Regions from separate parts of the Homo sapiens genome. Here region 1 is linked to region 2. Evidence: fine-mapped expression QTL. Tissue or cell type: fibroblasts. Region 2 holds a variant in brackets; the other region holds the start of a gene. All regions are shown on one strand. Distances are between the middles of the regions.

Evidence for each region.
Region 1: it holds the start of FMN2, and the variant in region 2 is fine-mapped to the expression of FMN2 in fibroblasts (GTEx, PIP above 0.99).

What each region holds. Positions count from the first base shown.
Region 1 is chr1:240,089,585-240,093,976 of GRCh38, reverse strand. It overlaps FMN2 (formin 2), which reads right to left and starts at 2,094. Exons shown (of 18, transcript NM_020066.5): 1 at 253-2,094. The coding sequence starts at 1,867.
Region 2 is chr1:240,028,393-240,032,784 of GRCh38, reverse strand. No RefSeq gene overlaps it. Among named protein-coding and RNA genes, the nearest start is that of FMN2, 61 kb to the left of the region's middle. The variant CG/G (reference allele first, on the strand shown) is at 1,599.

The sequences.
Region 1 (4,392 bases), 61 kb before region 2:
AGAGCAACTTAGGACAGACACAACTAAGTTGTTCCCTTTAAGATCTTGTAAGAACACAGAAAACCAACAAGTATGTCCAAGTCATTTCACCGTGGGGGGTGAGCTCGCTGGGCGGAAAAGGATTCCCTACGGAGAAGAGATGTGCCACTACCAGGTCACCGCCTTCCAGAGCCCAGGGAGGGCGGGTGGCAGGGGAAGGCCCTGACTGACAGGCGACTTGAGACCCGGAGGCCAGCAGCAGGGCGCGCTCACCTGTGAACACGTTCTGGAAGCCATCCGCAGCCGCGGGGGCCCCAGACGCCTTGGCGGCCAGTGCTGGGGACACCCCACCGCCGCTGTCACTCGCCACCCCGCGCTCCAGCAGGTGCGCGGAGCCTCCCACCCGGGGCGTGCGGGCGCCTAGCTCCTCCGTCCAGTCAGCCGAGCGGCTCAGGCCGGCCGCAAGGCCGCCGTCGGCCCGGTGCTTCTTGGCCGGGGCGGCTACGGAGGCCAGGGCAGTTCTGGACCCTCGGCTCAGGGAGGGTTCCGGCCGCCTCTTGATCCTGGGGCTCTGATTAGGGGACTGAGACGGGGAGTGATTGGGCGAGCTGAGCTGCCGGGTGGTGGTCTTGATGTAGCAGGGGGTGATGAGCGGGTAGGGCTTGAAACAGCGCTGGCTAGGCGCGGGGCTGCCGGGCAGGGAAGCGGCCGCGGGGGCGTCAGGTCCTTGCGCCTCCTCCTCCGGCTCTTCCCCCAGCCTCTGCGGGGCGTCCTCTCCCACCTCCGGGGCCCACTCCTCCCCCGGAGAGCCCCGGGGCGCATCCTCAAAAGCATCCTCCTCACCCTCCTCATCCGTGTCCCCAGCCCCTCGCACGGGGGCTCCGGCCGCTTCCTCCCCCGGCCCGGCCTCGGGAAATGGGAAAGCCGTGGAGGAGGGCGAGTCTTTGGCCGCGGGTTGCGCTGCCGGGAGACTGGGCGCCTCGGAGACCGGGAGGCCGCCGGGGGACGGCGGTTGCTGGGGCTCCCGGGGCTCGGCGGCCAGGCTCTCGGGCAGGTCGGAGAGCGCGGACAGCGCCTGCTCGGTGTCCGGACTGCCCGGGGCCTCCCCAGCCCCGCCGCTCGGCCCCAGCAGGAACCGGTCCAGGCCCAGGAAGGCCCCGGGCTGAGGGGAGACGGCAGTGGGGGGCGCTGCAGGCTCCTCGGCGCCCTGGAGCTGCTGCTGCTGCTGCTGTTGCTGGAGCTGGAGCTGGAGCTGCTGCTGCTGCTGCTGCTGCAGGCGGATCGCCTGCTGGATGTCTGAAAGCAAATCCTCTTGCTCCGTAGCCGAATGGAAGCTATAGATGTCCGTGTCCGAGCCCGAGCTGGTCCTTTGTCCATCCTGCGCCCCTGCTGCAGTTTCCACATCCTCGGCGATCGGCCGGCCCCCGACCCTAGCCTCGGCAGGCCCAGGACCCCCTGGACCGGTCACCTCAAAAGGGTCCGCACACTCGGTATCCGACAGGCCGGCCTCGTCCGCCGAGAGGCTGAGGTCTGGAGTCTTGGTGAGCAGGGAGTGAGCGCTGTCCAGCTCCCCGGTCTGCAGGGCCTGGGAATCCAGTACATCTTCGCGGGAGCCGCCGGCGCCTTTCCCCTTGGACAGATTCTTCCTGATCCGCAGGTTGGAAAACACCGAGGCTCTGGAGTCGGACTTGCTCTTCTTCTTGCCCGACTCCCCGCCGCCGCCGCCGCCCCCTCCCCCCTTGCCGTGCTTGCCTAGCGCCTTCTTGCCCCCGCTCCCCTTCTTTGTGGCTTCCACATCCCTGGGCCCCAGCGCATCCTCGGCGCCACCGCCGCCTTCGTGCAAAGCATCACCTGCGCTCCTCTTCAGCTTCCCATCCTGGTTCCCCATGGTGCAATCCCGCTGCTGCGCCGCCGCGCCGCGGGCACTCAGGCCATCCCGGCCCTCCTCGGCCCCAGGTCCGGGCCTAGGGAGTCTCCCGGGAGAGTCAGGCGGCGGCGGGGGGAGCCGCTGGGAGGGGAGGCCGACGCGCGCCCGGCTGGCCCCGCTCGCATCTGCCGCCGCTTTGCATAATGCGCGGCGGCTCCCGTGGCTGCCGTCGCTGCGGCTGCGGCTGCGGCTAGGGGCCGGCGGGGCGCGAACATGCTCAGTGCAGAGCGCGGCGCCCACCAATGGCTGCGCAGAACGCAGCTCGGGCCTGGCTCCCCGCCCGCCGCCGCCGCCCCCTCTGCCCCCGCGCGGCTCCTCGCTGAACCTGGGCGCGAAAAACGTTTCCTCTATCTCGGGGACTTTAATCTCCACCGTGCGAATCGAATGCATTGTCCCCGACCGAAGAGATCGTCAGCTGGAAGATGCACTCTGATCTTCAAAGCTGCTGGACCTGCCAAGAGAAAAGTTAAATAAAAAAGAAGAAATTTTTACACGGAGAAAAACTGAAGCCCAATTCCAGTTTAGAGGTGCCATCGGGTCACAGCCACATACACAACCCCCTGTCTGCCTCTGCATGGCTGTTCAATAAATATTTGTTGAATGAATGGATTGTTCTGTTTCTTGAATAATTGATCATCTAATTGAACACTGTTAATGTGCTTGAGCATATGGTTTAGGAGAGGTTACTACACATGGTGCTGCTTTTATGTTTCACACACAGACCCTGCTTCTCCAGGAGAGGACATTAGCTGTCATTTATAAAATTGGTTTGTGATTTTTTTGTTGTTGTTGACAGAAGGAGAGGTAGGAGAAGTAGAAAATACTGAGATTAGTGTTGATTAAAATGCTAGTCTCCAAATTCTATGTGTTTACCATATAAATTAAACAGCATTTGTATTCAAAAAGGGTGCATATACGATAACTCCCAGGAGGTCAAACTCATCAATATTAAACATGTCACTATTGTGGCTGCCTATAAAAAGGAAAAAGACAGAAAGGAAACACCCTTGGCACAAACACACAAAATCAGATGTTATGCTATAAACTACCACTTTCCCAAGCAAACCCTTCCAGGCAGACTTCGTCCTGTAAAAGTTTCTTAACGTTCTGGCCACAATATGGGGATAAACATTTTTCCTCATTGAATATTTTGTCATTGTTTTCATTATTTATTAAATTTAGTTACCTATTTTTTAAGAATAGTTTTTTTAAAAAAATATGGATATCTAAAGCTTTAAGCAGTAAACTGAGATTAAAGTGGCATTAATAAGTTTTACAAGTATTTAAGTAAAAGTCATTGATAACCACTTTGAAAATATGGAATAGACATCCAACTTATTAATATTTTCAAAATAACCCAGAGGAGGGAGAAAAGCTATATATTATACTGTGCAACTTAAATGTAGCAAGCAAATGTGTAGTCTTCCTTTGCATATTATGAACCAGCCTTTAAAATTCTTTTTTAAAAAAGGTTGGTCTTGTAAGTCTTTGGTTACTAACCTTTTTCAAACTATGTTTTTAAAAATAAATGTAATTTAAGGGCAGTTAGCCAGTTATCCTTAGGTGGCCCTTTCGAGTAAATGCTTTAGAGAAATCAACTTTAATAACTTTGCCAGGGTTATATCCCAGTCTCCAAGCAATTCCGGAGTACATGAAAAGCCTTTGTTTCACCTCTTTCACAAGACTGCTCTCTCCTTTTTTCTAGAATCTAGGCTCCTCAGAGGGCACAATTTGCCTGCAGCTATTAGAATTTTCTGCTTCTTTGAGTGCTGAGGTACTTTGAATCTTGATTTTTGCTCTTTCTTTAGCAGAACGTCTTTGATTCTGAACTACTGATTTCCTTATTGTTTTCTTCTGTGCTATATTCTAGACGTTCAGAAGACAAAAGAAGGGAAAGAAGGAGGGAGGGAAAGAATTGATGATTTTTTTTCACAGTGACAGTTGTGCAGCAGGTCACAGCTGACAAATCTCTATTGCATGCAAAGGCTCATTTGAAATTCACAAGTGTGGGTATCAAATACACATAGGTGCTCTTAACTCAAGGATAATTGAAGCATGAGCTCAGGCTCAGAGAGGCTAAGAGATTTGTCCAAGATCACATAGCAGCAGAAAGAATACTGGAACCTGCAAATTTAGACCACAATTTTTTTATAACATAAAACACTGCATAGTTTACTCTTGGGGGACCGGTAAGGATATCATAAAGGCAAACTACAAAGCTTTGCCAAAGGGTTCTTGTTATTTAATAGCTATTTAGTATTCCTAAGGATGCCTGAAACATGGCCTAACCTTAATTCCATTTGATCAGGTAAGAATATCATATCTGTGGTTGCAAAACTAGATTTAACAGATAATTAGAGATATTACCTCACGCCTGGCCACATCCTGGTAGCAAGACACAGACGAGAAACAGCAAAAGTGACCAGCCTCTATATTGATGTATCTAGAGTAATTCTAGTGTAATTATCAATAAAAGTCTTCAGTGT
Region 2 (4,392 bases):
CTCTGTTCAGGATGATGACATGGTATGTGATAGCTCTAGTGAACCCCTGGGGAGCCCATCTATTACTCAATTTTTCTTGATAGCAATCAGTGTTTCTGGAAAACATAGATGACCTGTGATATTAGTAAATCCATGAATGATAACATGGAGAGAGAGACAAATAAAGATAATCAATCCCAGGATAAGGATATTAAGCAAGAACAAATTGCTCTTCTTTCATTGTGAGTGGAATTCAATACAATAAGCCTCCTACTAGGTAGCTGATATGCTGATATCTGTGCTCATTCTGAGAGTCCTTTCAAATATCTGTTCTCCGAAACTTTTCATCACCAACCTCCAATTTTCTTCTTTCTAGCCAAACCATTAATCAGTCTTCATAAATCTATTCAGACTCATCTCTGAGGCTATATGGATGAGGGGTGTTTTCAAAACTCTGCCCTCTGAAAGAGTTTTTCTTCTATATGTTTGTGGTGGTTTGAATGTTTTTTTCACCTCCAAAACTCACGTTGAAACTTAATCCCTAGTGCAACAGTGTTGGGAGGTGGGACCTAATGGGAGGTGTTTAGATCATGAGGACTCCATTTTAATGAATGAATTAATGCAGCTATAGAAAAAACTTATAGGAGTGGCTTCCCTCTCTTCTGTTCTTCGACAATGTGAAGACACAATATTCCTTCACTCTAGAGAGTAGCAAGGGAACACAATCTTGGAACCAGAGACCTAATCTACTGGCATCTTGATCGTGGACACCTCAGACTCCAGAACTGTGAGGGAATAAATTTTTGTCCTTTATAAATTACCCAGTTTCAGGTATTCTGTTATAATAGCACAAAACAAACTAAGATAATGCTCTATCAGAGAAAATGGAGCTTATGAAATTATAAAGTTATTGCAAACAGTTTTATTCAATTCAAGTCAATTAATCTTTATTGAGTTCCTACTGTATGCATGGAACTTCAGGCTGGTGCATGTATATTTTGTAGGATCTTACTGTATTATTTTCTCCTTAGTATTTTTTAGTAGGGAGCAATGATGAGGGCATAGGTAGTTTGAGAGAGTAGTGAGAGAGTATCAGGAATAGGCATAAGGGATTGTGAGTCACTCGTTCAAAGAACTTGTTTACGACATGAGAATTATCAAATGCCTGGTTTGACATATAACACTTTGACCTGATGATGGATTACCATGGAGTATTCCAAATTTCAAAGCTGTGTGGTATGATAGCACTAGTTTATAATGTGCTCTTTAAGTTGTATGCTCAATTATGGCTTTACAGTTAGATGTTTATTATTCACCAAGGCGTAGTAGAAAGCTAAGAGCCACTTAGTGAAAGGACAATAGCAGAAAAAGGCATACTTTTGCCTTAAACTATGATGCCTTCGCTGTGAATTTTTTTATTTATTTTATTATTATTATTATTATTATTTATCCAGGAATGCCATGGATTCCATTGAGTCTTCTGACCCATTACAGATTCTTTGAGCATGATTGGATATGCTAGATCATAAAGGTCAGGAAGCAAAATGACCAATACTATTTCCTGACTCATCTGGAAAAGATTCTTTTGCCCAGGGTCGTGCTTAAAGCTGGAAGCCTCT[CG/G]GAGACATGGGTAAATGATTCATGGCAGTGTACTCAAATGTAGCAAACACTGCCTCCAAAAGCAGAAGGGACTCACTTGGTGTTAGAACTTGCTGTTAGGAGTAGCGGAAGAAATGGAGGGATATCCCGGCAGGTGCCAGGCCACTGGACTCCCTGAAATTTTTCTGAAATATTGTTCCCTGTATTTTCATGGTATTTATCTCCCTCTGGCATATATATATATATATATATGTATATATATATATATATTTTTTTTTTTTTTTTTTTTTTTTTTGAGATAGAGTCTCGCTGTATCGCTTAGGCTGGAGTGCAGTAGAGTGATCTCTGCTCACTGCGACCTCCTTCCCCCTGGGCTCAATCGATTCTTGTGCCTCAGCCTCACTAGTACCTGGGACTACAGACGTGCACCACCACACCCGGCTAATTTTTGTATTTTCTGTAGAGACGGGGTTTCTCCATGTTGGCCAGCCTCGTCTCCATCTCCTGGCCTCAAGTGCTCGGCCCGCCTTGAACTCCCAAAGTGCTGGGATTAGAGGTGTGAGCCACGGTGCCCAACCTGTATTTCAATGATATTTAAAGTAGTTGCTTCTTGCTTTTCAAACCCCGTTTGTATATTACCGGCAATGAAGTAGGAATGCTAATATGGTTCTTGTTTGAAAGTCGGCTCACTCATGTAAGGAAGGAATTGTAGCTTCAATGAAAAGATAAATAATTTCATCAGATACGTGTGGTATGTGTGGGAGCCGGTTTTGAATACACAGAGAAGTTTAGGGGGTGTTTGAAATGCTGAGGTTCTTGGAGTCCTTTGCATATTCCAGTAAGTTCACATTCTTGGAATTATTTTCCTTTTTTTTTTTTTTTAATCCAGATCATATGTTTAACCTAAGTTACCAGGAGGATCTATAAATTCAATTAGGGGCCACCTGGATCTAAATTTGAATTCAATTTTTAATTACCCTGGGGCATAGGAGATACTGTTAGGACCATGATAGAAAAATGCTAAACTTTTGTCTGTCTCAAGAAGAGAATTTAAGGATTTGAGCTCGCTGTTCCCTTTGCTTACACTTATTTAGACAAACTCTAGGCCTTGACTTTTTACCCGTCTTCCTGTTCTTTGGAAAATTCACCATGACACTCTAAAACATTGTCTTTAAAGAGCATACTATTTTAAGTGCCAAAAAATCTCTAATTTGATTTGCTATTTTGCCACCTTGTGTACTGTAAATCTGCAGGGTCTCATGCCTGGTTTTTACTGCCTTCAACCTCCAATTACTTAGATAATAAGTCTCAGAATCCCCACATTCTCCTGAGATGCTATTGCCAACAATCCAGGCCTTATTCACACTTTCTGTATGACTTAAACTCCTCAATTGAAAACAACAAAAAATGACTTTAGATAACTTAGGTGTAAATAAACTTGTCGGAAAGTTACTCTTAGCTTACAAAATTGACAGTGAGGTTGAAGAACCAAGCTTTATAAAAGGGACAAGCAAAAAAGGAAGCTTTAGGCATTAGAACCATCTGGCTATTCCTTCTATGCTATAACGCATAGCCATAGCCACACATTGTGACCATCTGTGGACTCAGCCACCAGAAATCTAATCTAACAACAAACAGCTACTTGGAAGGCTGAGGTAGGAGGGTCACCCAGGCCTCAGGAGAGTGAGGTTGCAGTGAGCCGTGATTGTGCCTTTGCACTCCAGCCTGGAAAACAGAGTGAGACTCAGTCTCAAAAAAAATAAATACATAAAGTTCATGGCTCTTGAACAGCTTTTGCTGATTAGAACCATTGAACTAAAAGTGCAGTATTTAGTATTGTAACTCAGGCAGGTGCTAATATAAGTGGAAAATTTTCCTTACTAAATCACAAAAGGGAAATTTCCTGCTGTTTGCTAACTCTTGGGTTATTTTCTGTTTTAGAAGTTTGGATGATACTGGCAGTGTATTTGGGATATTAAGACTCAAAGGAGCAGGTCTGTGGAATAGCCCAGTTTCAGGATGGCTCCCCTTGTCTCTCTGCTCATCTTGTTCCACGTCAAACAATGAGTGTAAGAGTGGGAGAATCATTCATTGTAGAAAATAGCATGTTAAAAAATATTCATTGTAAATACATAAACATTGTGGTGGTATTTTGGACCATTTGATAGAATAGAAAAATAACTGCATTATGCAAAAATTATTTTTGTAATGAAAATTGTTGAAATAGAATTGATATTTCAAATATAATTTCTTCAAAAGGAATACTTTATATGAAATTTAAAACAGAACTCTAGAAGGGTAAAATATTTGTGAATTATCTATTTTGCCAAAGTGCTTGAATTTTTATTGCTTTTATTATTTATTTTGCTTCAGTTTCTTGCCATTCTCCGAGAGAATTCCAATGACTGGTCATTTTTAGATAGAAGTGGGTTTTAGCTTGTAAGGGCTGGTACACTGATTTTTTTTTGATTGAATAATTAATATACTTGTGGAAATCTCTGCTTAGTTTAGGTAAAACTCTGGTTTTCTTAAAAATTATAAAAGATTTGTAAAACCTAGAGATTCAAGTCATCTGAGCTTTTTTCAATGTTTAAATACAGAATTTAGATGTATTTAATTCCCATGGCCAAAGGGTAGAGTTAGAAAGTGCAATACCTTTATAATTTTTAATATTTACAGTCTATTACTTATATATTAATTACTAATTGATATTAACCACATGCTTTTTAAATATGAAGATAATATTGTGAGACTAATTTTTGTTTATTGTGAATCCTAAATACTGTATCAAGGAATTTTCAGATTTTAAAAATT